7 linked regions of the Homo sapiens genome follow. The protein of the gene in region 5 interacts with the protein of the main gene of each other region in a biochemical or structural test. Each region holds a gene or a part of one and is shown on either strand. Other genes may lie near its edges.

Region 1 (3,500 bases), on a different chromosome or scaffold from region 5:
CCATCACTCTCCTCTTTACAATGACCTCCCAATAGGTTAAGATGCAGTTATTCTTTCTCACTTTAAGACACCTTTACCTCCGGCTTCTGCCACCTCCTCTGCTCCCCTGTGGCCACTCCTCACACCACTCCACATCCCAGCTGTTGTCAAGTTCTTTCAGTGTTCCAAATGATCTATGTTCTCTTTGCCTTTGAGCCTTGCATATGTTCCTCCCTCTGCCAGAAGCGCTGTTCCCCTTCCTTTCCCACCCTTCTGCCCGGCCAACTCACCTTCATTCTTCCCATCCCAGTTTAGAGGCCACCTTCTCGAAGCCTGGGTTGGGGGGACTCTTCAGTGTTCCCAGGACACCTTGTGCTTCCCCCATAATCACTGGGTGATCATTGTCTTTTCATGTTTCCATAAAGGAATGCATGAAAGAATGAACAAATGAAGTCCAGTAGGGAGCTACTGGACCCCAATCCCCAAATAAACAAAAAATGGCACTAAGGTGCACCCAATGCAGCCATGCACTGTAAGAGCTCCAAGATGGGAGAGAGATCCCAGGAGAGGGTAAGGGAAAGCTCCTGGAGAGTGGCTCCTTAGCCAGGCCTTGGATAAACAAACTCCAGCAGAGATATCCTCAGCAGGTCTCCTTCCCTGACATCAGCTTCCTCCTCAAAACCCTTCTGCTCACACTCCTGCAGGATCCCTACCGACTGTCCACCACCACCCTGATGCTTACCTACCACCCGGAAGAACATGGAGGTGGAGTGCTTGCCCTGCACGTTGCTGGCCACGCAGGAGTAGTTGCCGGCATGTTGGAAATCTACTTGATCGAGGTTGAGGGTCAGGACTTTTTGGTAACGGTTATTATGAAAGTCAGATTGTTGAGGGATTGCGAGCTGCAGCCAGAAGGAATGGAGATGTTATACCAAGGTAGTTTAGGGATTAGAAAGATCTGGGTTCCAATCCTCAGCCTTTAAGGATTACTATCTGCCTTTCCTCTGAGCCTGTTGCTTCACTTGTAAAATGGGGCTAATACTGGCTCCCTGCCCCAAGACTGTAGTGAGGAGTAAATGAGATATGCATGCAAGTGGCTTAGGGCTGTGTCTGGAACACGGCAGGTGCAGTGGGAAGGGAGGGGGCTCTTAGAGGCAGCCCAACGTGAGTCCCTCCTGGAATCCTCCCTCCTCCTCCCTCTCTCCCAATGTCTTTCTGAAATAGCTGTTATATTCCTGGGCTTCAATGGTGGCCTAGGAAACCCTTGCTAAATCAGAAGTGAGCTCACCTCTGGCTTTTGTCTAAAGGCTGGGGCAAAGGCCATGTGTCAAGGTGACAGAGAACCACCTCCCCCCACCCACCCCCACAAAGTTCAGCGGCACAAGCATGAGTCCTGATTCTGTGTCAGCTACTGACTGGGAGTGAGATCTCGGGTGAGTCTGCACCCCTCTCTGGAGTCTGAGCTGTGCCTTCAGCTAAGACAGCCAGTTTGGAGTTGGGGGCCCAGGACTCCACCATGGGAAACCTGGTGTGCTGGGAGGATGGCCAGACTTCACCTTGTGATCTGCAGGGACTGACCTTGGTGTTGTTGTGTTGGAGGAAGACATCAAAGTTAACATCAACGCTGCTGGCTGAGCACACGATCTGGGCAGCCTCCCCTCGAATCCGCACCAGCTCTGCAGGCACCAGTGTCAAGGCTGGGGGCCCTGGGATGACTGAGACCGGGGGAGAGACCCCTGAACACCCAGGCTCCCTGAACATGATAGAGATATTGCTCTCCTCCCTGCCATGGGCCAGGACACACAGGCCAGGGTCCCCATCACTGCCCCATCCCAAATCCTGGGAGGCAGCCTTGATGCTCCCAGTCCCCCCACTGCAAGGCCTGTCCTAAAGAGACCTTGGAAAGTCTACTTTCTCCATCACCTCTACCCCTCCCCAGTCCCGTCACCATTCTCCACTCTGGACTTCTGCACCAGCCTCCTCAGAGACCTCCCTGCCTCCCTCCAAGCCCCCCACACCTAGATTCTTCACTAAAGTGACCTCTTACAAATATAAATGGGACCATGCCTCTCTCCTCTGTAAACATTTGGGGCTTCCCATTACTCTCAGAAAAGAAGTCAAAGTCCTTCCACAGCCCAACCTGTTTCTGACCGCCCTGATAACCCCACCCCTTGTTCACTGCACTGCAGCCCGCTGGACCTCTTTCCTACCACAGGGCCTTTGCACCCACCTTTCCCTCCTGGAATGCCTTTCCTCCCACACTTCAAATGGGAGGCTGTTCTCATCCTTCAGATCTTTAGCTCAAAAATTCCTCAGCAAGGCTTCTGTGACCAGCTGATATGAATTAGCCTCCCCAGCACCTCCATGCCCGCCACTCCCCAGCTTGGTTTCTTGCTCATCACATTTGTATTTACTTTCTATTTAATAGTTAGACTCTAGTCGAATGTCAAATCCGTGACAGGAATATTCCAGCAGCCAGCAAGATGCCTGATGCACAGTAGGCCTTGAATTCATATTTATGCCCATTGCTGCTGTTGAAAGATAATCTAATCCAGATTCCTAAGGCCCAGGGACATGAAAGGACTCACCCAAGGTCCCTGAGGGGGTGTCAAGGCAGAACTAGGGCCCAGGACCTTTGGCTCTTGGCCAGCCCAGGGCTCTGCAGGATGAAATGCCAGGAAAGAGCCCTAATGGCCTCCTCTGCCCACACAGCTGGGGTCCTTTGACCCCCTGGGCAGGTTTAGTGGCTTCAGATCCCAGTGGCATTGGGCTAGCTGCTTCACTCTGACCCTGGCCCTTGTTACAGGGACTGATTGCTGTCTCAAGCCCAGGTCCTCAGGCTGGGGTCCTGCTTGCTCTCACCAGTCCTCCCAGAAACCAGAATCCTGCCTGCCATCCCAGCAGGGTGAGACTCCACCTCCACTGTTACCTGGCCACCGCGAGAGCCATCACACGCACCCACCATCTCCTCCCTGCCTCTTGGCTCAGCATCCCTCCTACACATGCCCAGCACTTGGCCTTAGGCAGGCCCCCAGTGGGAAATCCATGTCTGAGGCTGAGCTTCCGTCCTCTTTCCATACCTAGAACATTCAGAGCCTGTCCCCACCTCACCACTTGGTACTCACTGTCCCCCTGCTGAAGCAGATCTTTGCACAGCCACCTTCTTCATGTCATTCAGATTTCCGCTCTAATAAAGTGTTTCCTTCTCAGTGAGGCTCCCCGCCCTACACACTCCTTATTCAGCTACCATGTTGAATGTTTATTTTTGTAGCATGTCCAATGACTTGAGATGACCTTGCCCACTGAGTTATTTGCTCACATGTGGTTTGTCTCCCTGCCCCGACACCTTGTCAGTCCTGCCCCATAGATGATCGTGGAACCATTGAGGGGAAGAAGTGAAAGAAAGAGGACATCCCACTGCCCCCCATCACACCCAGTCCCCAGTCACCACCCATGTGGCCGCCGGCTCTCTGTCCCCACTCTTCAGGCCTGGCTGCCGGTCCCCATGCCCCACGCACCTT
Region 2 (3,514 bases), on a different chromosome or scaffold from region 5:
GCAGTCTCGGCTCACTGCAACCTCTGCCTCCCGGGCTCAAGGGATTCTGGTGCCTCAGTCTCCCGAGTAGCTGGTACTACAGGTGCGCAGCCACCACGCCTAGCTAATTTTTTGTGTTTTAGTAGAGACAGGGTTTCACCATGTTGCCCAGGGTGGTCTCAAACTCCTGGGCTCAGGCGATTTGCCTGCCTCGCCCTCCCAAAGTGTTGGGATTACAGGCGTGAGCCCCCACCTGCCTATCTTTGCCTTTTTTTTTTTTTTTCTCGGAGACAGTTTCGCTTGTTCCCCAGGCTGAAGTACAATGGCGTGATCTCGGCTGACCACAACCTCCGCCTCCTGGGTTCAAGCAGTTCTCCTGCCTCAGCCTCCCAAGTAGCTGGGATTAGAGGCATGCGCCACCATGCCCGGTTTTGTATTTTTAGTAGAGACAGGGTTTCTCCATGTTGGTCAGGCTGGTCTTGAACTCCCAACCTCAGGTGATCTGCCCGCCTCAGCCTCCCAAAGTGCTGGGATTATAAGCGTGAGCCACCGTCCCCCGCTTTCTTTGCCTTTTTAAAGTCTTGTCTGGGCTGGGCTCACGCCTGTAATCCTAGCTCTCTGGTAGGCCAAGGTGGGAGGACTGCTTGAGGACAGGAGAGCAGCCTGGCCAACATAGTGAGACCCCATCTATTTAAACAAAATTTTATTTATTTTTTTTCTTTTTTGAGATGGATTCTGGGCTAGATCGCAGATTTGGGATCGCAGATTGGGGGCTGGATCGGGGATTTGGGGATGGGTGGGGGGCGGTGAAAAGGTGAAAGGGAGTTGCCGCAGCTCAGAAGCCGATGGTTGGGTGTCTGAGAAGATTACAGGCGTGTGCCATCATGCCCAGCTAATTTTTGTATTTTTAGTAGAGATGGGGTTTCACCATGTTGGCCAGGCTGGTCTCAAACTCCTGACCTCAGGTGATCCGCCCGCCTCAGCCTCCCAAACTGCTGTGATAACAGGCGTGAGTCACCGTGCCCGGCCTTATCACTACTATTTTGTTTTGTTTTGAGACAGTCTCATTCTGTCGCCCAGGCTGGAGTGCAGTAGTGCGATCTCGGCTCACTGCAAGCTCTGCTTCCCGGGTTCACGCCATTCTCCTGCCTCAGCCTCCCGAGTCGCTGGGACTACAGGCGCCTGCCATCAGGTCTGGCTAATTTTTTGTATTTTTAGTAGAGACAGGGTTTCACCATGTTAGCCAAGATGGTCTTGATCTCCTGACCTCATGATCCATCCACCTTGGCTTCCTAAAGTGCTGGGATTACAGGCGTGAGCCACCACACCAGGCCCTATTATTATTATTATATTTTTTTTGGAGATGAAGTTTCACTTGTTCGTTGCCCAGGCTGGAGTGCAATGGCACAATCTTGGCTCATTGCACCCTTCGCTTCCTGGGTTTAAGCAGTGTTCCTGCCTGAGCCTCCCCAGTAGCTGGGATTACAGGCACCCGCCGCCACACCTGGTTAATTTTTGTATTTTTGGTAGAGACAGGGTTTCACCATTTTGGCCAGGCTGGTCTCAAACTCCTGACCTCAGGTGATCCACTTACCTCGCCCTCCCTGGGATTAGAGGCGTGAGCTTCTGCGTCCAGCCACCATCTCTAAATTTTTAAAAAATTTTCTTGTCTGGAATCTAAAGGGATTCTATTGAGCTTAAAGGTTTGGGTTCTTGGTTTTTGAAAGGTGCTGCCAGCCATCATCCTACTGAGGGGTAGGGCTGGGAGGTCTAGCATTTCATGGGATAGGACTGTTTGCCCTAATTTCCTTTCCATCTTCTGTAGGATGAGAGCCACTCAGAGTGGGTGTCTTGTGTCCGCTTCTCGCCCAACAGCAGCAACCCTATCATCGTCTCCTGTGGCTGGGACAAGCTGGTCAAGGTGAGCGTCAAGCCAAGGCAGGGGCTTTACCAGTCAGGGTGTGCTCCCAGGTGGTCATACACTCCAAGTCCTGTGGAAAGCTTTGCAGATGCCCTCAGTTGACTCTTTCTCTTGTCACATGGTCTGATGTCCCTTGTAAGTCAGCACACTGCATTGGATATGTGTTATAATCTAACGTGAAGTGGCCAGGACATGTTACTGAATGAGAAATGGCTACCGTATCCAGAAGTGCCAAGCCCTTTTTTGTTGGGCCTGACCCTAGCTCATCAAGAGCTAGGATGTTCACCTGTCAACCGCACGTCTATGCAGGTATGGAACCTGGCTAACTGCAAGCTGAAGACCAACCACATTGGCCACACAGGCTATCTGAACACGGTGACTGTCTCTCCAGATGGATCCCTCTGTGCTTCTGGAGGCAAGGTATTTGGGGACAAGGCGTCTCCTACTCAGTGGAAGACAGCGTCATGGAAGGAGCACTTAGCCAGCGTCTCTAACGTAAAATGGCAAACATTAGCCAAGATGGTTTTAGGAGGATAATGAGATAATGGCAATCTGAGAATATGTTTCCAAAGATTACTTTCAGCAAATGACAGTTAAGGCATACTATCTGGAAGAAAAAGATGATTTTCTATAAGCCTGTGGGTTTTTTTTGTTGTTTTTTTGTTTGTTTGTTTTTTGTTTTTTTTTTGAGACGGAGTCTCACTCGGCTGCCAAGGCTGGAGTGCAGTGGCGCGATCTCGGCTCACTGCAACCATCTCCCGGGTTCAAGCAATTCTCCCATCTCAGCCTCCCGAGTAGCTAGGATTACAGGCACCCGCCATCACTCCTGGGTAATTTTTGTATGTTAGTAGAGAGGATTTTACCATGTTGGCCAGGCTGGTCTTGAACTCCTGACCTCAGGTGATCCGCCCACCTCGGCTTCCCAAAGTGCTGGGATTACAGGCATGAGCCACCGCACCCAGCCTAAAGTTGGTTTCTTGAAGCAGTTGATGAGATTGGGATCCTGGTTTTCAGAAATGATTGGAGTGATTTATGTAAGTTGGGAGGGGTTTTTTGATGGGGTTGGTAAGGTCTTACGTTAAAGGAAAGGTATACAGAGATAAATATTGGTACTTGAGTCATTAGCTTTCAAAGAAGCCTGGGGTAATGGAGGAAAGGTAAGAATTGATTCTGACAGAATCTTGAGATGGGCAGAATTAACATCTGGAAGAGGTCACAGTGTCCTGATTTACCTTACCTGTGTCCAGGATGGCCAGGCCATGTTATGGGATCTCAACGAAGGCAAACACCTTTACACGCTAGATGGTGGGGACATCATCAACGCCCTGTGCTTCAGCCCTAACCGCTACTGGCTGTGTGCTGCCACAGGCCCCAGCATCAAGATCTGGGTGAGTGTGGGTTACAATTGACTGGGTACCTGGCTGCACTCTGAGCCCTGGCAATGTTTTGGTTATTATATATGCCATCTGACTCCCACCTGGGAGCTAAGCTTTCTCAGCCTCCACGTAATGACATTTTGGTCTGAGTAACTCTGTTGTGGTGTGCAGTCCTGTACATTCCAGGATGTTTAGCAGCATTTCCAGCTTCTACTAGATGTCAGTAGCAAACCATCCT
Region 3 (4,759 bases), on a different chromosome or scaffold from region 5:
TCTCTAGGATATGTTAAATGGTCTGTTTCATGTTGAACATTCTTTTTTTTTTTTTTTTGAGACAGAGCCTCACTCTGTCACCCAGGCCAGAGTGCAGTGGCGCAATCTCGGCTCACTGCAAGCTCCGCCTCCCGGGTTCATACCATTCTCCTGCCCCAGCCTCCCGATTAGCTGGGACTACAGGCGCCTGCCACCACGCCCAGCTAATTTTTTTTTTGAATTTTTAGTAGAGACGGGGTTTCACCATGTTAGCCAGGATGGCCTTGATCTCCTGACCTCGTGATCCACCCGCCTCGGCCTTCCAAAATGCTGGGATTACAGGTGTGAGCCACCGCGCCCTGCCTCATGTTGAACATTCTAATGAAGATGAGGTACTTGAAAGCAAAGCAGCTGCTAAGACATTTGAGACTGTTGGAATCCTTGGAGTTCAGCATTATGGGTACACAATGCCTAAAAACTTATTTATTTATTTTTTTTGGAGATGGAGTTTCACTCTTGTTGCCCAGGCTGGAGTCCAATGGTGCAATCTCAGCTTACCGCAACCTCTGCCTCCTGGGTTCAAGTGATTCTCCCGCCTCAGCCTCCCTAGTAGCTGGGATTACAGGCATGTGCCACCACGCCCGGCTAATTTTGTATTTTTAATAGACAGGGTTTCTCCATGTTGGTCAGGCTGGTCTCGAACTCCCGACCTCAGGTGATCTGCCCTCCTCGGCCTCCCAAATTGCTGGGATTACAGGCGTGAGCCACCGTGCCTGGCCCACACTGCCTATAAATTTTTGCCCTATCAATTTTCACATCATCTGACACCACATTTAGTTCTAATTCCCTCATTTAACATTCAAGAAAACCAAGGACTGTATCTTACCTCCTCCTAGTTTTCTGATGAACACATGACGCTTACTCAATTCTACTTAATAATATTCCAAATCCTTCATAAGTCTCCAGATTCATCCTTGTTATTAAATATTCAACAGTAGTATGTTAACTCTGACAACCACCAGGCCTTGCTAAAAGGCAAAAATAGTACCATTTCCTATTTATTCAAAGTAATATTCCAACCAAGTATTCAAAGGTGGTAACAAGCAAGATAGATAAACTGGCCTGTCCCATCTCTATCTAGTCCTCAGTAATAGTCTGAAAAAAGCTGCTCACCTATCTGTTAAACATCAATAGTCAACCTCTTCCAAACTAAACTCGTCCTCAGCAAACTCCTCCAGGAAAGAAATCCCTGAGTGTGCTCAGGTCAGAATTTAACCCAATAACACTAGATGCTATAAGCTTCTTGCTGCTAGTCTCTACTCTCTACAGCATGAACTTCTTGAGTGCAGAGACCCACCTTAGTCACTTTCCTAACACAATCTCCTTGTTCCACACTACTACCAAAATACTCAGCTAGGTGAAGACCCTGTTAAACCTTAGTTAACCAAATATCAGAATGCAGGCACACTGTGGACCCGAGATACTGACAAGATACCGGTACACAATGAAAACCACATTAGACAAGGAGGGATAGAGTGGCCTTGGAGCATAATGCTTTGAGAACTAGGTGCAAGTAACGAACTACCTAAGGAAAATGAACATAAGTGCAGAATTTGGTATACATACAGGTTATGCAGAGACCTTAGTTAAGAACCCCTACCTTCACAACAGTATAAGATCCCAGTTCTCTTTTGCTCAGAAGACACAGGATATGGATTTCCTTACCGGTACTAGAAATTTCTTGACTTCCTCCATGGCATGGGCCATAAGAGCATAAGCCTCACATGGGGGTCCAAAGACTTCAATGAAGACATGCAGATCCATATTCAAGTGGGCATATTTGGGGTCTCCACCTTTGCGCAGCTCTTCCTCCTATGGAAAAATGCAGAGAAATGTCACACCATGGACTAGGGAGAAAACACCACCTTTACCTCTAAGCCAAAGGAACAGCAAGAAATACCCCTAATGTCCATGAAAAACAGTAAAGTTAATTGGTATGAGCTGAGAAGAATTAAACAAAAAAAGAAAAAAGAAAAAAGAAAAACAGTAAAGTTTAAGAAAGTAAAACAAGCAGCCAGGCGCGGTGGCTCACGCCTATAATCCCAGGACTTTGGGAGACTGACGCGGGAGGATCACAAGGTCAGGAGTTCGAGACCAGTCTGACCAATGTGATGAAGCCCCGTCTCTACTAAAAATACAAAAATTAGCCGGGCATGGTGGCGCACGCCTGTAATCCCAGCTACTCAGGAGGCTGAGGCAGGAGAATTGCTTGAACCCGTGAGGTGGAGGTTGCAGTGAGCCACTGCACTCCAGCCTGGGCAATAGAGCAAGGCTCCCTCTCAAGAAAAAAAAAAAAAGTAAAACAAACTCTCAAGAACAGTAATTTGCACAGCCTGCTAAACTTGCACATGGTCTGCTGCTTACAGTTAATTGTTGTCTTAAATCCCTGAGATATCCATTGGAGCTCCTACTAAAAGCATAAAGAAGAAAAACTTAATTCTAGTCTATTCAGATAATAGCTGTTTGCCAAGCATTTGTTTTTAAATCACAGGTAGAGCTGTTAATCACCACGAGCTCTGCTTATCTGCTTATATGGTCTAGGGAGTGGTAGGGGAAGAAAGAAGTCAGGACAGAGGGAAGAAAAGCTCATGTAAATCTCATTAGTTAGAACACACTTCAGCCGTAACTATATGCATCTAGCAAGAAATGACCTGAGAAAACAAACATGTGTCCATTAGACTACATAAAAGGAGGGTTGAAAGAATTGGTTTTTGGACTGTAGCAGGAATATCTCATCAAATAAGGTGACCCCAGAAGGCTAAGACTATTCTGTTTTGGTGAGAAGTTTCTTGTCACAGAGTACACAGCGTACGCGGCTATGGCATGGGGAAAAAAAAGACGCATTAGATTCTGTAGTCAGGATTACTCATGGTTCCTTTTGGAATACATTCTTTTAGTGAGCCTCACATTCCAAACCGGCTATAAAACAAACCAACTAATCCTCAAACTCATCTGCTCTCACATTATTGTTCTCACTTTTCCAGGTTACAAAAAAGGGGGTGTGCTATTTGCATTTTAGCGTCTTTTGTCTGCTTTAGACTAAATTTTAGTATATTCAGTTCCCCTTTCAAGTTTTCACAGACAATCCTACCAATGCGCAACATGCTACTGCTGTTTCCATTACTACACAGTCAAAAAGTCCAAAAGAAAACTATCACCAGGGCACACCTAGGCTCTTCCAGGGTTGCCAAGCCAAGTAAATTAACTTGGTGTATAATCTCTTGCATCCAGTGCAAACTTAAAGGAGCCACATTCTGTACACATACAAAATTCTTGCCGCCTCTATAAGACATCCATACTGCATTCTGGGCAAGTAGAAGGCATTAGGATGTCCTCTTGCCTCACTAATGTGAGCTTACCTTGGCTTTGTCTCTCATTGAGCCCTTTCCCAATACAGAGATCTTTGCACCAGTCTCTTCCTGCAGTCTTTTGATTGTATTCCCTTGTGGTCCAAGAATCTTCCCCACAAAATTGAACTGACAGAAAATAGAGGATTTCTAAATATACATGCTACTATATAAAAACATTTCCACATAAATTACCTCACTTGATTTTAAACAACCCTGCAAAGGTAGAGTATTACCATTCCCATTTTACTGAAGGACACTGAAGCCATATTAATAAAGTGATTAGCTTAAGGTTATGAAACTAGAAAGTGGCAGTTCCTAGACCTGAATTTGGCTTTTCTGATGTATTCTGGTGCTCTTCCATAATACATTAAGACCTTTACTATTTTATTTTTTACTTTATTTTGAGACAGGCTCTCACTCTGTTGCCCAGGCCAAAGTGTAGTGACACAATCATGGCTCATCACAGCCTCAACTTTCTGGACTCAAGTGATCCTCCTGCCCCAGCCTCCAGAGTAGCTGGGTACAGGTGCACACCACAACACCAGGCTAATTTTTGTATTTTTTGTAGAGATGGGGTTTCGCTATGTTGCTCAGGCTGGTCTTGAACTCCTGGGCTCAAGCAATCTGCCTGCATCGGCCTCCCAAAGTGCTGGCATTACAGGCATGAGCCACTGTGCCTGGCCCAGCACTTAACATACATCAACATTTTTAAGGCAGTGACCTCAGAACAGAAGAGACTATATAGCACCCTTTGATAACACGCTGGATAAACTAAATGTAACTAAATGCTTTCCTAAAAAAAAAAAAAGGAAGAAAAAAAGCATTTACTTAAAAGTAAACTTTTAGTAAGAAAATAAAATTAACTTCAACCAATTGAGGATTCATATTATATTTCCTTTTATTTAGATTTCAGGTTAGTCTTTTGACAAAGAGCAACTCTTCAGGTTTTAATTTTTTTTTCTTTGAACTTGTAGCCTGAGCAATCATTTGAGAAAGAAACTTTTTGATAATAAAAAGATGATTATATTTCCTTCCTGGCTATAGCTATGTTATTAGTTAAGAACTTAGATATTTCAACTCTCAGTAACAGGTACTACAAGCATGAAAGAGAAGCTTCACAGGCTTAAGTTTCTAAAGCATCACAATCCCCAGGAGTCTTTATTATAGCCCATGACTCTCTCATAACTATAAAGATAACTCAAAGATCCAAAGCACTTTTTGCCTTACCTTGGGATACTGCTTGACAGGTATCAGCACTCGCTCTTTCAGTTTCATGTTCTTATGAGAAAATAAATCCAAGTAATTCTCCTCATCATCCTTTTTTGAGTCTCCTTTCTGAATCTTCTCAATTTCTGAATAGGAAAAACAAT
Region 4 (4,759 bases), on a different chromosome or scaffold from region 5:
CCAGCCTGGGCAAGAGAGACTCCTTCTCAAAAAAAAAAAAAGGAAAGGAAAAGGAAAAAAGAGAGTAAAAGACCAACATAAAAGTATATAAAAGTATGACAAGCACAACTTTCAATAATGTAACTATCACAATAAATCACACTTCTTTGAAAACCAGGCATCAGAGACAGCGAAGTAAGCAGAGGCATTCACGTTTTCAACACTTTGGAATTACCCAGGTCGACGTCTAGGTGAATACTGCTTGTAAATTCGGTCCATGCTACCTTGGAGATTCATGAGAGCAGTAATAGCTTGGTTCAAACATTCTCTGTCTTCTTGTTCTTCACTACATGCTTTCAATTGCTAAGAAAAAACAGAAAGAAAAATCAAAACTGCATTGTTTGATTCTTCCCCCAACTTTCTAGTAATAGAAAAAGCAGCAACAAATATTATCAACTCTAAGTTAATTTTATATATACTTAATAAAAACAGCTATAATTTTATATATACCTACTGCCCTCTCAAACCAACCCTTTTTCTTTCTTTTTTTTTTTTTTTTTTGAAACAGGATCTCACTCACTGTGGCCTTGAGCTCCTGGGTTCTAATGATCCTCCACTCTCAGCCTCTCAAGTAGCTGAGACCACAGGCGAATGCCACCACACCCAGCTAATTTTTAAAATTTCTGTAGAGACAGGGTCTCGCTATGTCTCCCAGGCTGGTCTTGAACACCTGCTCAAGCTATCCTTCTGCCTCTGCCTCCCAAAGTGCTGGGATTACAGGTATGAGCCACCAGTCCTGGCCCAACCTTCTTTCTATAAACATAAACACAATACAGATATAAACTAACATGAGCATAGTAATCAGGAAAAAAAAAAGCAACTGTAAAAACCATTCGGACATTTTATTTTTATTTTTTATTTTTTTGAGACAGGGTCTTACTCACTCCGTCACCAAGGGTGGAATACAGTGGCAGGGCTAACTGCAGCCTCGATCTCCTGGGCATAAGGCTTCCCGAGTAGCTGGGACCACAGTTGCATGCCACCACATCCAGCTAATTTTTTTATTTTTATTTTTTGTAGAGATAGGGTCTCACTAGGCTGGTCCCAAACTCCTGGACTCAAGCTATCCTCCCATCTCTGCCTCCCAAAGTGTTGAAATTACAAGTGTGAGCCACTGTGCCAGGCCACATTTTCCAAACATATTTAAAAAGTTTAAAACACCTAAAGCATGAAGCTTACAACTTACTTTTATTCATTAGCAACTATGAATAGAGAAAATAAGTAACTATAAACTATTTCATATTCTCTAATGATTACTTTGTTTTAGCAATTTCAAGTTTACAAATCTTTGTTATATAACATAATCAAGGGTACTAACTTTTAACACTTCAATCTATCATAAACTTTTCCGTAAACAGCATCTCTCAAAGGATTCCACTGCTATTTTTTACAATATGAAATGTCAAGAAACCATGAAAATTAATTCTATCTCAATCTTTAGAAGATTTAGAAACTGACTTATTAATCTCTAAAACTCTGGTTCTATTTCATTTGCCCCAAAATGTTCTCTTGTATTTCACTCTCAGAAAGAAAGCAAATTTACTTATAATAAATAATTCAGATTGTATTGTATTGTGCTCCAATGTTTTGATTTTTTTTTTTTTTTTTGAGACAGGGTCTCACTCTGTCACCCAAACTGGAATACGGTGAGGTGATCATGGCTCACTGCAGCCTTGCCTCAACCTCCTGGACTCAAGTGATCCTTCCATCTCAGCCTCCCAAGTAGCTAGAACTACAGATGTGTGCCACCATGCTTGGCTAATTTTTTTTTTTAATTTTTCTGTAGAGATGGGGTCTCACTATGCTGCCCAGGCTGCCCTCAAACTGTTTTAATCTTTTGAAAGAAGAGTTCAAAGTGGAACATCATATAGATATTATATATATTATGTATTTATAAATATATATTTATGCAAGGATATGGGGAATTATGATCACTTCAGAAAATTTTTAAAAACTTAAATCTATTTTGTGATCTTTAACTTATTAGAGATTTTGTGATAAATTAAAATTTTCCTTATATTCCAAGAGCAATCTCAAAAGCATTCAGCAATGGTTCCCTTTCCTCAGCAAAGAACTAACTGGCTATTGTTTGACAACTTTGTCCATTACCTTTTATTTATGTCTTAGAAATTAGTCTCTATATGAAGCACAGAGCCATTTGATTTTATTTCAAGACACATGTAGAGGTCTTGTCATCAAGAGATTAGCAACATAAATAATGTAAATGACTATTATTAGAAGTAATACCTTAATCTCTAGACTAAGCAATAGAAAGGATGGAAGCAAAGTCAAAATATCATAGAAAGTTTGAAAAAAGATCTGTGCTTGGTTATTCTGACTTCTACAGGTGAAAGTTACTGGCAAAATCACTTATTTTGCTGCTTTAAAGATTTCTTACAGAAAGTCTTCTCAGCTCCACTCTAAAATATTTCTTTAATAAATATGAATGTTGATGACATCAAACACTTAATTAGAACTGTTTTATTCTTGTTTTTGTTTATCCAAATATCTAAATTATCACCAGTAGTGATATCCTACCAAAAAGGTATGATTTTCATTGTCTACTTGGTCTTAAGGCTGCTCAAACTCTTCCACGTGTCATTTTTAAATAACCATGTAATAATTATAAGCTGTAAAGGAGAACAAAATTGAGGATATTTAGAGTGGGATTTCCTGGTAATGGAAGTATATTAAACAACGGCTCTGTTTGGCATAATAATCTGATAATTTGCTAAATATTTCTTGAATTTTCAGCAGTGAGATTTGATAAACATCATATTAATGAATATCCAACTAATATTCTACAGATACTTAAAAGAATGTGTTCCAAACATCTTACACAGAAATTACTGGGCCAGGCAAGGTGGCTCACACTTGTAATCCCAACATACTGGGAGGCCAAGGCGGGCAGATCACTTGAGCCCAGGAGTTCAAGACCAGCCTGACCACACGGAGAAACCTTGTCTCTACAAAAAATACAAAAATTAGCCGGGCGTGGTGATGTGCACATGTAGTCCCAGCTATTTGGGAGGCTGAGGTGAGAGGATGACCTAAGCATGGGAGGTAGAGAATACAGTGAGCTGAGATTGTGCCATTACACTCCAGTCTGGGTGACAGAGTGAGACTCTGTCCCCCGCAAAAAAATGAAAATAAAAATAAAAAATACAAAAAAAAATTAGCTGGACGTGGTGGTGCATGCCTGTAATCCCAGCTACTCAGGAGGCTGAGGCATGAGAATCACTTGAACCTAGGAGGTGGAGATTGCAGTAAGCCAAGATAGCACCACTGCACTCCAGCCTGGGTGATAAGGCGAGATTCTGTCTCCAAAAAAAAAAAAGAAAGAAAAAGAAAAGAAAAATTACTGTACTGAACTATGTGCAAACAAGTAATGTACTTTCATGCCCCCATTCGCTTTCTACACAACAGTCTCTGACCTCCTTATCCACCCGGTGAATTTAGCCACTAGGATACAGTTGAAATGCTTCCTCTTGAAGATGCCTTCTGATTATGCCTTTTCCCTCTTAAATTTTTTCTTTTGAAATATCAAATTTATAGAAAAGTTGTAAAAGTAACACAAATAACTCCTGTAATACTCTGAATCACCAATTTTTAACATTTTGTCACATGCTTCATCATTCTGTGTGCCAGTGTGTGCAGATCGTTTTTTTAGTAGTTGTGATACTATCCACTCAGTTCCTTCCAGAGGAAGGGGGACTACGGCTGAATGGTTTTGCAGTAGTTTTTGGAATATAAGGAAAAGTCAAATGTATCACAAATTACTCTCAAATAGTATCATTCTCCTTTACTCCTTTAATATTTCTCATAGCTCATCTTACAACAAGGATTTTCTTTTACAGAATCACAGTATAGTGATCAACTTCAGGAAATTTAACACCGAGTAATCTACTGCATAATCTAATCTATAGTGTATATTCCAATTTTGCCAACTGTTTTAATAACATCCTTTAAGGTAATATTTTCCCCCAAAACAGGAACTGGTCAGTGAAGCACTAAATTGTCATGTTTCTATTGTCTCTTTTATTCTGGAGAGTTCCTAAGCATTTGTCTTTCATGACTCCCGCAAATAAATAAGGACACACACACCCGCGCACACACTGTTCTCTCTCTCAGTAGGACGAATACCCAAAACCATTATGTATTTTTTTTTACTCCACTGAACAAAGGAAAAATCAATAGGAATTTTTTTCTGCCTTCCCTAAGCAGAGCTAGTAACTCCTGCTTCATTGATCTCATAGTACTACCTCTATTAGGCTCTTATAATATTGTAATTATTTGTTTGACATCTATTTTCTTCACTAAATTGTAAACATCTTAATGCCTAGGGACACGTTTTATTCCTTTTCAGTTTACCTGCATGTGGTAGGTATCCACTAGGTGGTTGTCAGAAGTAACTGGAATAAATGACTACTGTATGATTTTGTTAAGTATTTAGACCAATAATGAATGTTTTTTGAGCTCTGCTCTGTGCACGCTCTTTTATGCATTAGCTTATTTAATTTTTATTACAACTCTGTAACACGAGGTACTATAATCATATGTTACAGATGAAGGAAATGAGGCACAGAGAAATTAAGTAATTTGCCCAATATAAATAGGAGAGTTTATATCCAAACCCAGGAGCTCTGACCCCAAAGTCTCTGCTTTTTTGCTACACTAATACCCCGTGGCTCTACCATGACACCAGACACAGCTACGCAAA
Region 5 (4,759 bases):
CCCCTTCCCCCCGCTGACTTCTCTCATTGGGGTGAGCATGCTTTACTGAAGGCAGGGAGTGTCTGTCCACCCACTGAGTGAAGGGTGAGAGCCTGGTGAGGATGGTTAGGATTAGGAGGTCACAGAGAAGCGCTTAGGAGAGCAGCTCCCGAAGTGGGGTGGCCAATAGCGTCCCCTTTGGAATTCTGGGGAACGCCGTGATTGAAATCACTATAGATAATTTGAGTTTACAAACTCATTTTATAAAAACTTAAAATAGGCCGGGTGCAGTGGCTCACACCTGTAATCCCAGCACTTTGGGAGGCCGAGGCGGGTGGATCACCTGAGGTCAAGAGTTTGAGACCAGCCTGTCCATCATGGTGAAACCCCATCTCTACTAAAAATACAAAAGTTAGCTGGGTGTGGTGGCATGCACCTGTAATCCCAGCTACTAGGGAGGCTGAGGCAGGAGAATTGCAATGAGCCGAGATCATGCCACTGCACTCCAGCCTGGGCAACAGAGCAAGGTTCTGTCTCAAAACAAATAAACACATGAATAAAAAAACCCAAAAAAACCCAAAACTTAAAATAGGCCAGGCATGGTGGTTCACGCCTGTAATCCCAGCACTTTGGGAGGCTGAGGCGGCAGATCACTTGAGGTCAGGAGTTTGGGACCAGCCTGGCCAACATGGTAAAACCCTGTCTCTACTAAAAATACAAAAACTAGCCTGGCGTGGTGGCATGTGCCTGTAATCCCAGCTACTTGGGAGGCTGAGGTGAGAGGATGGCTTGAGCCCAGGAGTTTTAGGCTGCAGTGAGTGGTGATGGAGTCACCGCACTCCAGCCTGGGTGACAGAGGGAGACCCCAACTCCCAAAAAAAAAAAAAAAAAGTTAAGAACAACTTAAAATAGCAATACATGCACATGGTGTAAACATCAAAAGGGAATGAAATGAAATGCAAAGTCTCCCTCCTGCCCTGGCCTTCAGCTGCATGCTCTGGAGGCTCTCCGGAGAGAGCTCCAGAGGCAGCCATTTTTGACAATGTCTTGGGTTCCCATGGATAACTGTAGTGACTGCTGGAAATGTAAGAGGAGTGTGTGTGGCTAGGCCCATCTCAGCAGGCTGCAGATACTTACTTGGGAAACTGGATGTCTATGAAATTCTTGGGCACATATCCTTCCTGGCTCCCAAGCTCCGCCTTAAACCACTCCTCTTGGTTACTTAAAATCTACATGGAAGAAAAGGAAAGACAAAGACATTGGAGGGAGGACACCAAAAAAACAAGAGAAAGGGGCTGCCAGGCAAAGAAGGCCCTTTTGGACTTAGAGGAAAATATGTTAATAAGTTGAAAGAACTCAACAGCTGTTCTAGGATTTACCCCAGGCCTGTGGAGGAGCCGTGGGTTTACCTTTGGAGTCAGCTTCTCCTGACCCCAGGTTATTTCTGTCCACTTGTGCCGTCCACTCATGTCACCCCACTGTGGCTTGGCCTCCCAAATTCAGCACTCAAGGACTTCCCTGAATCCCTTTTTCTATTTTGGAAATTCATTTGTCCCAGTTAGCACCTTAAGTTCCTCATCTCAGCAGATGGTGAGAAGGAAGAATGGTTACTCCACGGTGTATTTTTTTTTTTCTCTTCCAGGTAACCAGGAAACTTTTCTCTTTTTTTTGTTGTTGTTTTTCGTTTTTTTGAGACAGAGTCTTGCTCTGTCGCCAGGCTGGAGTGCAGTGGCGGGATCTCAGCTCACTGCAACCTCCACCTCCTGGGTTCAAGCGATCCCCCTGCCTCAGCCTCCTGAGTAGCTGGGATTACAGGCATGCGCCACTACACCTGGCTAATTTTTCATATTTTTAGGAGAGACGGGGTTTTACCATATTGGCCGGGACTGTCTTGATCCTTTGACCTAGTGATCCACCTGCCTTGGCCTCCCAAAGTGCTGGGATTACAGGCGTGAGCCACCAGGCCCAGGAAACTTTTCAAAAATTCAATTTGTTATTGTTTTTTAAACAGGCAGATTAAAACTTAAACATCCCAGTGGGGCCAGCTTTGGAAACAGTAACTCTTTGTGTTCACATGCTGTGTATTTCACAGATATTTGGCTGGAACCCAAGATACTTGGGATGCCTTTTCTAAACTTGCTTTTAAAGCCAGATCCCAAACAAAACCAAAAGTTCTGTCTTGTTACTCTGTGGCCTGACTTTGACTGTGACCCCAAATGTTATTGTCTACCTCAGTTACTCATATTACTCACCAGACTTGACTGTATGTGGCTTCTGGTTTCTCAAAAAATGAGATTCACCATTAAAAGACAAAATATTTGACACCGCCACTGAGAATGTTTTGAAAGTCTGAGGCCAGGTGTGGTGGCTCGCGCCTGTAATCCCAGCACTTTGAGAGGCCAAGGCACATAGATCACTTGAGGCCAGGAGTTCGAGACCAGCCTGTCCATCATGGTGAAATGCCATCTCTACTAAAAATACAAAAAGGAGCCGGGCCTGGTGGCACATGCCTGTAATCCCAGCTACTCGGGAGGCTGAGGCAGGAGAATTGCTTGAACCCAGGAGGCAAGGTTGCAGTGAACCGTGATCTTGCCACTGGACTCCAGCCTGGGCAACAGAGCAAGCCTCTCTCAAAAAAAAAATTTTTTTTAAGTCTTTGATATAGACTAGAACAATAATTCTAAATAAGGATAGCAGAGCAAAAGATGGAAAGAACTCTGATAATGTCACTGAACCGCTGAATTAGATGATACCCAGGAGCCTTCCTACTTCTGGACTTTGAGAAATTACAAGTCTTTGTTATTGTTTAAGCCATTTTTAGTTTATGTTTCTTGCTCCTGAAAATATCTTAACTGATAGAAGTGTGATGATAAAGAAGAAAGCAGAAATAGATAGAAAAGGCATCCATATGTAGAGGAGAGACCACTTGCCTTGGCAACGAAAGGAGTTACTGAGGCCAAGTCAGATGGCAATGGACTTCCTCCTTCAGCTCTGAGGAGGTGTGGTGTGTTCTGGGAATGAAATGCCTCCAGGTGGCTGGAATGTAGACTGTGAATATCTTGAAATGTAGGGGGAGCCCTTAAAGGATTTTGAGCAGGGAAGTAACAGTAAGAATTAGAGTTCAGAAAGAGCTCTGGCTGGGTGCGATGGCTCATGCCTGTAATCCCAGCACTTTGGGAGGCCCAAGTGGACGATCGCTTGAGCCCAGGAGTTTGAGACCAGCCTGGGCAACAAAGCGAGACCTTGTCTCTATGAAAATAAAAATAAAACTTAGCAAGGCGTGGTGGAAGCGCACCTGTAGTCCCAGCTACTCAGGAGGCTGAAGCGGGAGGAGGGTGTGAGCCCAGGAGTTAAAGGCTGTAGTGAGCTCTGATTGTACCACTGTACTACAGCCTGGACAACAGAGAGAGACTCTGTCTCTAATTAAGAGAGAGCGAGAGAGCGACAGAGCTCTGTATCAGAGATCAGAATGTGAAGATAGATTGCAAGGCTAAAGTCGGCAGAAAAACTGCAGGAAGATGAGCGCAGGCCTCCAGTCAAGAGATGATAGGGCCTAGGCTAAGAGGAGGTGAGGATATATTTTAGAGAAATTCAGGAAGCAAACAGGCAGGATTTCTTGACCAATCTTGGAAGCTAAGGGAGAGGAGGACTCTGGGATGCCACTGGATTTCTGGCTTGGGAGACTGAGTAGGTGGTGACGGCTTTACAGAAATAGAAGATACATGAGAGGAGGCAGGGCTGAGAAAGGGCTCATGGGCTTCAGATTGCATGCGGGTGACTGTGAGTTGAATTCTTCAACTAAGAAGAAAAGCTCAGGGAGCAGCTGGATATGTCAGTCTGGACCCAGGAGAGAGGCTAAGGTTGGGGCTTGGGGTTTCAGAGTCATCAGAAAGTGGGTGGAGTTGAAGTCACAGGGCCCTTGGGCTTCTTTCTCCCAGAAAAGAAGATGGGAAGATAATGGAAAGAACTAAGTGCTTGAGTGGAGATGATGACCTATTTCTAACATCACTCCAAGGTGGAAGGAAGGGGACAGTGTTGTGAGTTGGGAACGAGAAGACCTGGTTTCTAGCTTGGCTCCATCACTAGATATGTGATCTTGGCCAAGTCAATCAGCCATTTGAAAAATGGAGATAATAATAGCCACCTAGCACCTCACAGAGCTGATGTGAGGATCAAATGAGCCCTGGTACCTGAAAGTCCTTCAGAAAGTGTAGACTCTTTTCAAAAAATACAATTCCATCAAATGTGGTATTCTTATGAGGGAGGCCTCCAGCTCTGAATAGGACATGGAAGGGTTTATACGTTCTTTAAAGCATTATGTGTGTATGTTTTGAATTTAGTCATTTATTCTGAAGGAATAAAAGTGTGTCCCATATTTGAGTTTGAGATTGCTGAGAACAGAAAACTTTATAGTTTCTAACATCAAATGTGACTGCTGGTGTCACTAAGGACATGTGGGTATGTGTGTGCTGAGGGGGCAAGGGAGGAAGCAGAAAATCTAGGTCAAAAGAACTAGGAAACCCAGCAGCAGCGCCTCGTAGCCACGTAAAAACACAAGAGCACACTGCACTCCATCCATCGCTTCTGAATTCATGGCATTGGAATTCCTTTCTCCCGTCACATGGGAATGTGGTGTTTGGCCAGGGTAGCAAATGTCACACAGAAAGGGGTAAAAGAGGCCATTTGGAAACTACCTTGTCACCGTAAGAACCACACGTTGAGGCCGGGTGCCATGGCTCACGCTTATAATCCCAGCACTTTGGGAGGCTGAGGCGGGTGG
Region 6 (4,759 bases), on a different chromosome or scaffold from region 5:
TATTCCAGAATGTTTTGAGAGTAAATTGCAGACAGCAATGACATTTCACCCCTAAATACTTCAGTATGTATCTCCTGAAGTACTCTTATTCCTACTCTTATTATCACATCCAAGAAATTTGACATTGAATATAATAGTATTATCTAATATTCAGATTTCCCCAGTTGTCTGTATCTAAAATGTCATATAAATTCAGGGTTCTGTCAAGGTCCCACATTGCATTTAATTGTCATCTCTTTAGTCTCTTGAAATCTAGAACAGTTCCTATCCTTTGTAGTCTTTTTTAATCAACATTTTAAAAAGAAACCAGGACAGTTGTCTTGTAAAATATCCAACAACCTGGATTCACGTGATTGTTAGTTCTCATTTTTGCAAGAATATCATATAATTAAGTGTTTTGTACATCTCATTTTATCATATTAGGGAGGCACATGATGTTGGTTTGCCTCATTATTGGTGGTACTAAATTTGATCACTTAAAGTGGTGCTCACTTTAGTAAAGGTATATTTTACTCTAATTTTAGCTTCCACTGATGAAGGCTGCCTGCCTATATTAGTTATTAAACTGATGGTTTCACATCCTCACATTTTTGACTGAATTGATCATGCACCCTACTATGAACCAAGGGAATTTCCCCCCCAGCTTCCTAGTGAAATGGGGTATGGTTGTTTCAATAAAGACTGGTTGAACTCATTCTGTATTGGTTGCCCAGTTGCCCAATTTTAAAAACTGACAGGCATTTCTGGGACAGTTTCTCACTGTTGACATCCATAGTTGTGTACTAGAAACAACCTGGCTGCGTTTTTTTGTTAATGATTACTTTTGTTTTCTGCTCTTAGTGTGGATGATTTGGCTCTGAGCATATATCCACCTATGTGTCACCTGACCGTGCGAATCAATGTAAGTACTGGCTTTGAGGGAATAGCTACAGAACAAATGGGCAGAATTTCACTAATCACTAGTATTTCCTGTAAGCTATAGGGTACATATTTATTAGTCACATTTGGATGGAAGTACAACAGTAATGTCACAGTTCTTGCATGCGTTTGGGGTTGATAAATATTCACTGAAGTTGAATTATAATAGCCATGAGCTTTGGTAGTTCTCTCTTCCATAATCACCTGGGTAATCATTCAGAAAAGCCCAAAGGCCTTAGAAAATGATGCTTTAAGGCTGGGCGCGGTAGCTCACACCTGTAATCCCAGCACTCCAGGAGGCGGAGGTCAGGAGTTGAGACCAGCCTGGCCAACATGGCGAAACCTTGTCTCTACTAAGAATACAAAAATTAGCCGGGCATCATGCACCTATAATCCCAGCTACTTGGAAGGCTTAAGCAGGAGAATCGCTTGAAGCCGGGAAGTGGAGGTTGCAGTGAGCCGACATCGCGCCACTGCACTCCAGCCTGAGCAACAGAGCAAGACTCTGTCTCAAAAAAAAAAAAAAAAAAAAAAAAAAAAAAAAAGCTTCTTTGAAAAGAAAGTCTTAATTACACGGTAATTTAGGAACTTCTCAACTTGAAGTCACAAGTTTCTAATTTCTAGACTAGGCAGCAATTAGATTGAACTTCAGCTGTTCATGAAGTAGCTGGCTGAGGTCACATGTTTCTGATTTCTAGACAAGGCAGAAATAAGTGTTCCAGAAACATACTCTGTTCTAATACAAACACATTGTGTGATTTAACTATGGAGAGTCAACTTTCTTATAAAAATCTGATTTTATTGTATTCTTTGAGGTTCTGTGCCCTTTACTAGAGAGAGTTCTGTTCTCTCTAATGTTATTGGAAAGAGCAGTAAAACTGCCAAATGGCTTATATTTTACAATTGAATGTATCAATTCTAGTAATATTTGATAAATTGGATAATGGAAATTAGATTCATCAGATGTGTCTTCATGATGTATAAACACCTTGAAGTAGAATAGGATCCTTTTGGGCATTAACATTTTTTTGGCATTAACTTTTAAAAAATTGACTTCCTAAGAAATAAACATTTTTAGCAATATGCCTAGTCAGCTATCCCAAACATAGTATCTGCTCTAGCAATTTTAAAATGTGTACTGCATATGCATCTTATATGTATTGATATTTTATATTAAACGTCTCCATCTTATCCTTATATTGGTGTTCTTAAAATTCTTAATGCGCTTTTTTTTTTTTTTTTTTTTTTTTTTTTTTAAAGGAACCTTAGTCATTTCTGCTTTATATTTTGAGCTATCAGCATTTGGGACCAATTCAGGTTACATTTTCCTTTTTCTGTCCTTTTTTAAATTGAAAATATTTTAGATCTAAAAAATCTTATTAAAATGTTATAGCAATAGTATTAATAAGATCTTGCTAAATAGAAAAGAACCCGTAATCCTGCCACCCTAACCTAATCAGCATTTTAAATTTTGCATACTTCCTTCAGGTCCTTTTTCTAAATAATTTTTTTATTACTTGGGTCTTTAAAAATATTTGAACTCACCTTTTTATGGTAGGGCTCAGGGTGAATAACTTCTGTGTTTCTTTTCTAGTCTGCGAAACTTGTATCTGTTTTAAAGAAGGCACTTGAAATTACAAAGTAAGTATGAAGACTTCTCAGATAGCTTTTTGTGAGTAAAACGGAACTGCTGTCCAGACGTTCTCAACTCCCTAGCTCCCATTTCAAGGAGTGGGAAAGGGTGGGTGTGGGATTTTCTTTCAGCTTCAGTTGTGGGGCAGCTGAGATTCTGCAAAGAAGCTTCCCTTTAAAAAAATTTTAGTTTTCCCTGTGCTCCCTCCTGAGGATAGGTTTTCCCTTGACATCCTAATAAGTTTAACTTACTTCTTTCCTATTCTATTCACAGAGCAAGTCATGTGACCCCTCAGCCAGAAGATAGTTGGATCCCTTTACTTATTAATGCCATTGATCATTGCATGAATAGAATCAAGGAGCTCACTCAGAGTGAACTTGAATTATGACTTTTCAGGCTCATTTGTACTCTCTTCCCCTCTCATCGTCATGGTCAGGCTCTGATACCTGCTTTTAAAATGGAGCTAGAATGCTTGCTGGATTGAAAGGGAGTGCCTATCTATATTTAGCAAGAGACACTATTACCAAAGATTGTTGGTTAGGCCAGATTGACACCTATTTATAAACCATATGCGTATATTTTTCTGTGCTATATATGAAAAATAATTGCATGATTTCTCATTCCTGAGTCATTTCTCAGAGATTCCTAGGAAAGCTGCCTTATTCTCTTTTTGCAGTAAAGTATGTTGTTTTCATTGTAAAGATGTTGATGGTCTCAATAAAATGCTAACTTGCCAGTGATTAAATGAGTGCCCTTCCAAAGTTTCTTTTTACCAGAAATACAGTGGATTGAGACTAGAACATTGCTTTCATTTGGGTTTGTAGGTTTAAAAATCTGATTCTAATCAGAAGTATATTTAGAACAAAACACTTTATTTATAAAAGATGACTCCAAAATTCATCTTAGTATTTCACCATGTTATATATTATTATCAGCAAGTCCTTCTGAATATTATCACAGATTACTCCATGTCTCTAAAATATATTGGCATTGAGCTCATTTGTTAGGTTTGCCCACCTTATTGAACAGATTTATTTTCCTTATACATACTTGTGTTGTCCTTGGTTACGTGTGTCCCCAAATGTAAATACCAAATTTTTATAAATCAAAAATTTTTTAGTGTGTAAGAGATTTTATGTAATTTTAAGGGCCTTTTCAGTTCATCCTTTTGCAAAACCATCACCACTTAATTATACTTTTGCATCAGTCTAGAAGACTGCATATTGGAAAGCAGTGTAAATCTATAATGATGTATATTCTGGTGAGCTGAATAGGGCATTATGCATGTCCTACAGGTCTCCGCCACCTCTCATGCCCATCATCTTCCTTTTGTAGGTGTAATTCATAACATATGCCTTTCTGCTGTCTTTAGGTATAATCAGCAACAGCAGTCATTCTTTGAGTGACTAATGTATACTTGGGGTTGGGGTTGAAATTCCTTAAGCCAAATGAGTTTTAGCTTACTGTTTTGAAGTGCCATTTTGTATTGTTAACAAGTGTCATGAAGGGAAGGAACTAAAATCAAACTGACAGAGTGTCAAGGCAACAAAATAACATAAACAAAATAATAACATTGTACAACAGTCTAGTTCTTTTATCCTTTCATATAGAGCCTATTTTTTATATACTTTTATATTTCTCTACTGGACCAAATTCATGTTATTAACATCAGACTTTAATTGTGGGATACTTAATGAATATAGAACTCTAATATAAAGACTTACCTCTAGCTGAATTATTCTCTCAGGTCCTGTATTGTATAACTTCGTTCAGTCATGTTTGGATCTTTAAGGATAATGATCAGGGAAAGCACTGATCAATGTAATTTTTTTTTTTTTTTTTTTTTTTTTGAGATGGAGTCTTGCTCTGTCCCCCAAGCTGGAGTGCAGTGGCACACTCTCGGCTCACTGCAACCTCCGCCTCCCAGGTTCTCAAGCAATTCTCTGGCTTCAGCCTCTCAAGTAGCTGGGACTACAGATGCACACCACCATGTCCAGCTAATTTTTGTATTTTTAGTAGAGATGGGGTTTCACCATGTTGGCCAGGCTGGTCTCAAACTCCTGACCTCAGGTGATCTGCCCACGTCAGCCTCCCAAAGTGCTGGGATTACAGATGTGAGCCACCGAGCCCAGCTTGATCAATGTAATTTTAAGATTACCTAAAAATTCCATTTTGGGATAATATCCCACTTCATCAGAAATATTAGAA
Region 7 (4,759 bases), on a different chromosome or scaffold from region 5:
AAGGTGATGCTGATGAGGGTCTGGTGCCCAGGGCGCCACTCAGCCCTCATCCTGCCCTTTGCCCAACAGTGACGCGCACTGTCTGTGCCGGTGGCTGTGCCCGCTGCAAGGGGCCACTGCCCACTGACTGCTGCCATGAGCAGTGTGCTGCCGGCTGCACGGGCCCCAAGCACTCTGACTGCCTGGTATGTGCCTCTGCTTTGTGCCCAATGTGCTCTACCCCCCAGGATGCAAGGGGTGGGCACCCTGCCTGGTACTGCCCTATTGCCCCTGGCACACCAGGGCAAAACAGCACAGTGAAAGCCAGCCACCTGTCCCCCCAGGCCTGCCTCCACTTCAACCACAGTGGCATCTGTGAGCTGCACTGCCCAGCCCTGGTCACCTACAACACAGACACGTTTGAGTCCATGCCCAATCCCGAGGGCCGGTATACATTCGGCGCCAGCTGTGTGACTGCCTGTCCCTGTGAGTGCCAGGGAGAAACACAGTTTTCTCATTTTGGTGGGGAGGTTTGTTTCTGTAAATGGGAGCATATGGGGAGCACTGTCTGCATCTTGCTTTGAGAGCTGGTCATGACAGTTCCTGCCGAGCTGCCTTGTTCTTTCAACAGCTGTGGAGCAGGTGGCAGTAAGGAGAGGCAGCTAAGAGCCCAGACTTGGGAGCCAGACTGCCTGGGTTTGAAACCCAGCTCTATCAATTAGTAGGCACGTGACCCTCTTGCTGTGCCTCAGTTTCCTCATCAGTAAAATGGGGGCAAGAATAGTCCCAACTGCATAAGATGGTTATAACATTTGAAAGAGTTAATATTTGTAAAGCTCTTAGAACGGTGCCTGGTATGTACTAAGTGCTCCTAAATGTTAGCTTTTATTCTATAGCCTGGTGAGGTCAGTTTTACCTTTCGTTTTGTTTTTGAGACCGAATTTAGTTAGCTCTATCGCAGTGGCGCGATCTCGGCTCACTGCAACCTCCGCCTCCCAGGTTCGTGCTATTCTCGTGTCTCAGCCTCCTGAGTAGCTGGGATTACAGGCGCCCACCACCATGCCTCGCTAAATTTTGTATTTTTAGTAGAGACAGGGTTTCACCACGTTGGCCAGACTGGTCTCGAACTCCTGACTTCAGGCGATCCACCTGCCTCGGCCTCTGAAAGTGCTGGGATTACAGGCGTGAGCCACTGCACCCGGACTTTTTTTTTTTTGGCAGAGTCTCGCTCCATTGCCCAGGCTGGAGTGCAGTGGTGCAATTTTGGCTCACTGCAACCTCTGCCTTCCGCATTCAAGCAATTCTTGTGCCTCAGACTCTTGAGTAGGTGGAACTACAGGCATGCACCACCATGGCTGGGTAATTTTTGTATTTTTAGTAGAGACGGAGTTTCACTATGTTGGCCAAGCTGGTCTCGAACTCCTGACCTCAAGTGATCCACCCGCCTTGGTCTCCCAAAGTGCTGGGATTACAGGCATGAGCCATCGTGCCTGGCCTAGCTCAGTTTTATTTAACAGATCACCTATTTACTGATGGGCGTTTATGGACTGGGCTCAGACCTGGGGAACCTCTTTCCTCCTCTCACAGGAACAGGAGTGGGCCTTCAGATCCTGGCTGACTGTGTTAGGGAGAGGACAAAATGTAGAGCCAGACCATTTGGGTTCAAATCCTCGCTCCTCCACTCACTAGCACAATGACCTTGAATAATTTACAGAACTCTCTGCTTTGGTCTCCCTTTTTGCAAAATGGGAATCTCACAGTGCTGATCCCGTCTGGTTGTTGTGAGGGGTAAATGGATGTCAGGTGCTGATGCGTGGTAGGGCATTTAAGTATTGGTTGATATTATTCTTCTTGTGCCTGGGCACGGTAATGCTGCTCATGGTGGTGCACGAAGGGCCAGGGTATGTGGCTACATGTTCCTGATCTCCTTAGACAACTACCTTTCTACGGACGTGGGATCCTGCACCCTCGTCTGCCCCCTGCACAACCAAGAGGTGACAGCAGAGGATGGAACACAGCGGTGTGAGAAGTGCAGCAAGCCCTGTGCCCGAGGTACCCACTCACTGCCCCCGAGGCCAGCTGCAGTTCCTGTCCCTCTGCGCATGCAGCCTGGCCCAGCCCACCCTGTCCTATCCTTCCTCAGACCCTCTTGGGACCTAGTCTCTGCCTTCTACTCTCTACCCCTGGCCCCCCTCAGCCCTACAAGTGTCCCTATATCCCCTGTCAGTGTGGGGAGGGGCCCGGACCCTGATGCTCATGTGGCTGTTGACCTGTCCCGGTATGAAGGCTGAGACGGCCCCTTCCCCACCCACCCCCACCTCCTCAGTGTGCTATGGTCTGGGCATGGAGCACTTGCGAGAGGTGAGGGCAGTTACCAGTGCCAATATCCAGGAGTTTGCTGGCTGCAAGAAGATCTTTGGGAGCCTGGCATTTCTGCCGGAGAGCTTTGATGGGTAAGAGTGGGCACGATGACCTGAGACAGTGTCAGGGCAGACAGAGTCCTGAGGATCCAGATGTGGCAGCATCTCTTGGGGATGGCAGGAGACAGAAGTGGGGGGATCAAGAATGCAAAGAAAGCAGATGGGAGACCAGAGGAGCAGGGCCTTTGGTGGGTGGGGGTGATTATTTTTGTAAATGACATGCTATCCGTGAACAAGGACTTGTATGGAGGTCAGACCATCTAGATAAAGTAAAATTCCCTTTGAGTTCATAGCAGCTTTATTCAAAATATCCCCAAATTGGAAATAACTCAAATGTGCATCACTAGGTGAAGGAATAAACAAGTGGCAGTGTATCCATTTGGTGAAGTTCTACTTAGCAACCAAAGGAAATGAACTACCGATACAACATAAATGAATCTCAGAAACATTACATTGAGCAAAAGAAGCCAGAGACAAGATTCCATACTGTCTGATCCCCTTTATGTGAGGCTCTGAACCGAAAAAACCACTCTGTGGTGGGAGAGATCAGAACGGTGGTTGCCCCAGGGTGGGGGGCTTCAAAAGGGAGGCACACAAGGACATTTCTGGGGTAATAGAAATGCTCTGTATAGTGATTGGGGTAGTGGATACATGAGCGAATCCATTTGTCAAAACTCATCAAACTGTGTGATAAGAGTCTGTGCATTTTATTTATTTCATTTTATTTTTTGAGATAGAGTCTCACTCTGTCAGCAGGCTGGAGTGCAGTGGTACGATCTTGGCTCACTGCAACCTCTGCCTCCTGGATTCAAGCAATTCTCCTGCCTCAGTCTCCTGAGTAGCTGGGACTACAGGTGTGTGCCACCATGCCCAGCTAATTTTTGTATTTTTAATAGAGATGGGGTTTCACCATGTTGGCAAGGATGGTCTCGATCTCTTGACGTCGTGATCCGCCCACCTCAGCCTCCCAAAGTGCTGGGATTACAGGCATGAGCCACCACACCCGGTGCATTTTATTGTATATAAGTTATACTTCAATAAGAAATGAATTGGGGCCAGGCACGGTGGCTCACGCCTGTAATCCCAGCACTTTGGGAGGCCGAGGCAGGCAGATCACTTGAGGTCAGGAGTTCAAGACCAGCCTGGCCAACATGGTGAAACCCCATCTCTACTAAAAAATATAAAAAATTAGCCAGGCTTCCTGGCATGCGCCTATCATCCCAGCTACTTGGGAGGCTGAGGCAGGAGAATTGCATGAACTCGGGAGGTGGAGGTTGTAGTGAGCTGAGATTTCGCTATTGCACTCCAGCCTGGGCGACAGAGTGAGACCCTGTCTCAAAAAGAAAAAAAAAAAAAAGGGTCAGGCGCCGTGGTGCACACCTGTAATCCCAGCACTTTGGGAGGCTGAAGCAGGAAGATTGCTTGAGCCCAGGAATTCAAGAACAGCGTGGGCAACATAGTGAGATCCCATCTCTACAAAAAAACACAAAAAATTAGCCGGGCATGGTGGTACGCACCTGTAGTCTCAGCTACTAGGGAGACTGAGGTGGGAGAATCACCTGAGCCTGGGAGGTGGAGGTTGCAGTGGGTTGAAATCATGTCACTGTACTCCAGCCTGGGTGACAGAATGAGACCCTGTCTCAAAAAAAAAAAAAAAAAAAAAATTCCCTTTCACACTTCCTTTACCTCCACTCCCCTTTCCAGAGGGGGCCATGGTTAACAGTGTGTGTGTTCACCTAGACCGTTTATGCATCTGTAGACACACACACAGTGAAGTGTGGTTTTCGTCGTTTTGGTGGGGAGGTTGGTTTCTGTAAATGGGAACATATAGGGAGCACTGTCTGCACCTTGCTTTGAGAGCCGGTCATGACAGTTCCCATTGAACTGCCTTGTTCTTTCAATAGCTGCAGAGCAGGTGGCGGCAAGGAGAGGCAGCTAAGAGCCCAGACTTGGGAGCCAGACTGCCTGGGTTTGAAACCCGGCTCTACCACTTACTAGGCATGTGACCCTTGTGCTGTGCCTCAGTTTCTTCATCTGTAAAGTGGGGGCAAGAACAGTCCCAACTTCATAAGATGGTTATACCACCATGCCTGGCCAGATGATTATAAAGTTTGAATGAGTTAATATTTGTAAAGCTCTTAGAACAGTGCCTGGCAGATACTAGGTGCTCCTAAATGTTGGTTTTTATTATGTGGCTGGGTGGCTCGGGGTTTTATTTAACAGCTCCCCTATTTACTAATAGACATTTAGATCATGTTCCATTTTCACTCTTACAAACAGTTCCACTTTGTGTGTGGCTCTGGGAACATGGGCCAGTGTCTCCCTAGGCCACATTCCTAGAAATAAGATTTCTTTTCTTT

The links.
Region 1: the proteins of GRAP2 (region 5) and CSF1R form a complex in vitro, tested with the Homo sapiens proteins (one study listed by BioGRID).
Region 2: the proteins of GRAP2 (region 5) and RACK1 form a complex in vitro, tested with the Homo sapiens proteins (one study listed by BioGRID).
Region 3: the proteins of GRAP2 (region 5) and KHDRBS1 form a complex in vitro, tested with the Homo sapiens proteins (one study listed by BioGRID).
Region 4: the proteins of GRAP2 (region 5) and SOS2 form a complex in vitro, tested with the Homo sapiens proteins (one study listed by BioGRID).
Region 6: the proteins of GRAP2 (region 5) and CCNDBP1 form a complex in vitro, tested with the Homo sapiens proteins (one study listed by BioGRID).
Region 7: the proteins of GRAP2 (region 5) and ERBB2 form a complex in vitro, tested with the Homo sapiens proteins (2 studies listed by BioGRID and IntAct, with this or other methods).

What each region holds. Positions count from the first base shown.
Region 1 is NC_000005.10:150,076,555-150,080,054, forward strand, and holds part of CSF1R (macrophage colony-stimulating factor 1 receptor isoform a precursor), read right to left. Parts: coding exon 3,498-3,500; intron 1,695-3,497; coding exon 1,558-1,694; intron 882-1,557; coding exon 722-881; intron 1-721. UniProt on the Homo sapiens protein: Tyrosine-protein kinase that acts as a cell-surface receptor for CSF1 and IL34 and plays an essential role in the regulation of survival, proliferation and differentiation of hematopoietic precursor cells, especially mononuclear phagocytes, such as macrophages and monocytes.
Region 2 is NC_000005.10:181,237,873-181,241,386, reverse strand, and holds part of RACK1 (small ribosomal subunit protein RACK1), read left to right. Parts: intron 1-1,804; coding exon 1,805-1,900; intron 1,901-2,209; coding exon 2,210-2,320; intron 2,321-3,147; coding exon 3,148-3,288; intron 3,289-3,514. UniProt on the Homo sapiens protein: Scaffolding protein involved in the recruitment, assembly and/or regulation of a variety of signaling molecules. Interacts with a wide variety of proteins and plays a role in many cellular processes.
Region 3 is NC_000001.11:32,030,280-32,035,038, reverse strand, and holds part of KHDRBS1 (KH domain-containing, RNA-binding, signal transduction-associated protein 1), read right to left. Parts: intron 4,742-4,759; coding exon 4,617-4,741; intron 3,516-4,616; coding exon 3,399-3,515; intron 1,852-3,398; coding exon 1,705-1,851; intron 1-1,704. UniProt on the Homo sapiens protein: Recruited and tyrosine phosphorylated by several receptor systems, for example the T-cell, leptin and insulin receptors. Once phosphorylated, functions as an adapter protein in signal transduction cascades by binding to SH2 and SH3 domain-containing proteins.
Region 4 is NC_000014.9:50,161,268-50,166,026, forward strand, and holds part of SOS2 (son of sevenless homolog 2), read right to left. Parts: intron 343-4,759; coding exon 215-342; intron 1-214.
Region 5 is NC_000022.11:39,952,268-39,957,026, reverse strand, and holds part of GRAP2 (GRB2-related adapter protein 2), read right to left. Parts: intron 1,209-4,759; coding exon 1,117-1,208; intron 1-1,116. UniProt on the Homo sapiens protein: Interacts with SLP-76 to regulate NF-AT activation. Binds to tyrosine-phosphorylated shc.
Region 6 is NC_000015.10:43,191,903-43,196,661, forward strand, and holds part of CCNDBP1 (cyclin-D1-binding protein 1), read left to right. Parts: intron 1-840; coding exon 841-901; intron 902-2,512; coding exon 2,513-2,559; intron 2,560-2,824; coding exon 2,825-2,939; 3' UTR 2,940-4,759. UniProt on the Homo sapiens protein: May negatively regulate cell cycle progression. May act at least in part via inhibition of the cyclin-D1/CDK4 complex, thereby preventing phosphorylation of RB1 and blocking E2F-dependent transcription.
Region 7 is NC_000017.11:39,710,017-39,714,775, forward strand, and holds part of ERBB2 (receptor tyrosine-protein kinase erbB-2 isoform a precursor), read left to right. Parts: intron 1-69; coding exon 70-185; intron 186-323; coding exon 324-465; intron 466-1,911; coding exon 1,912-2,031; intron 2,032-2,305; coding exon 2,306-2,432; intron 2,433-3,136; coding exon of another isoform or gene 3,137-3,253; intron 3,254-4,759. UniProt on the Homo sapiens protein: Protein tyrosine kinase that is part of several cell surface receptor complexes, but that apparently needs a coreceptor for ligand binding. Essential component of a neuregulin-receptor complex, although neuregulins do not interact with it alone.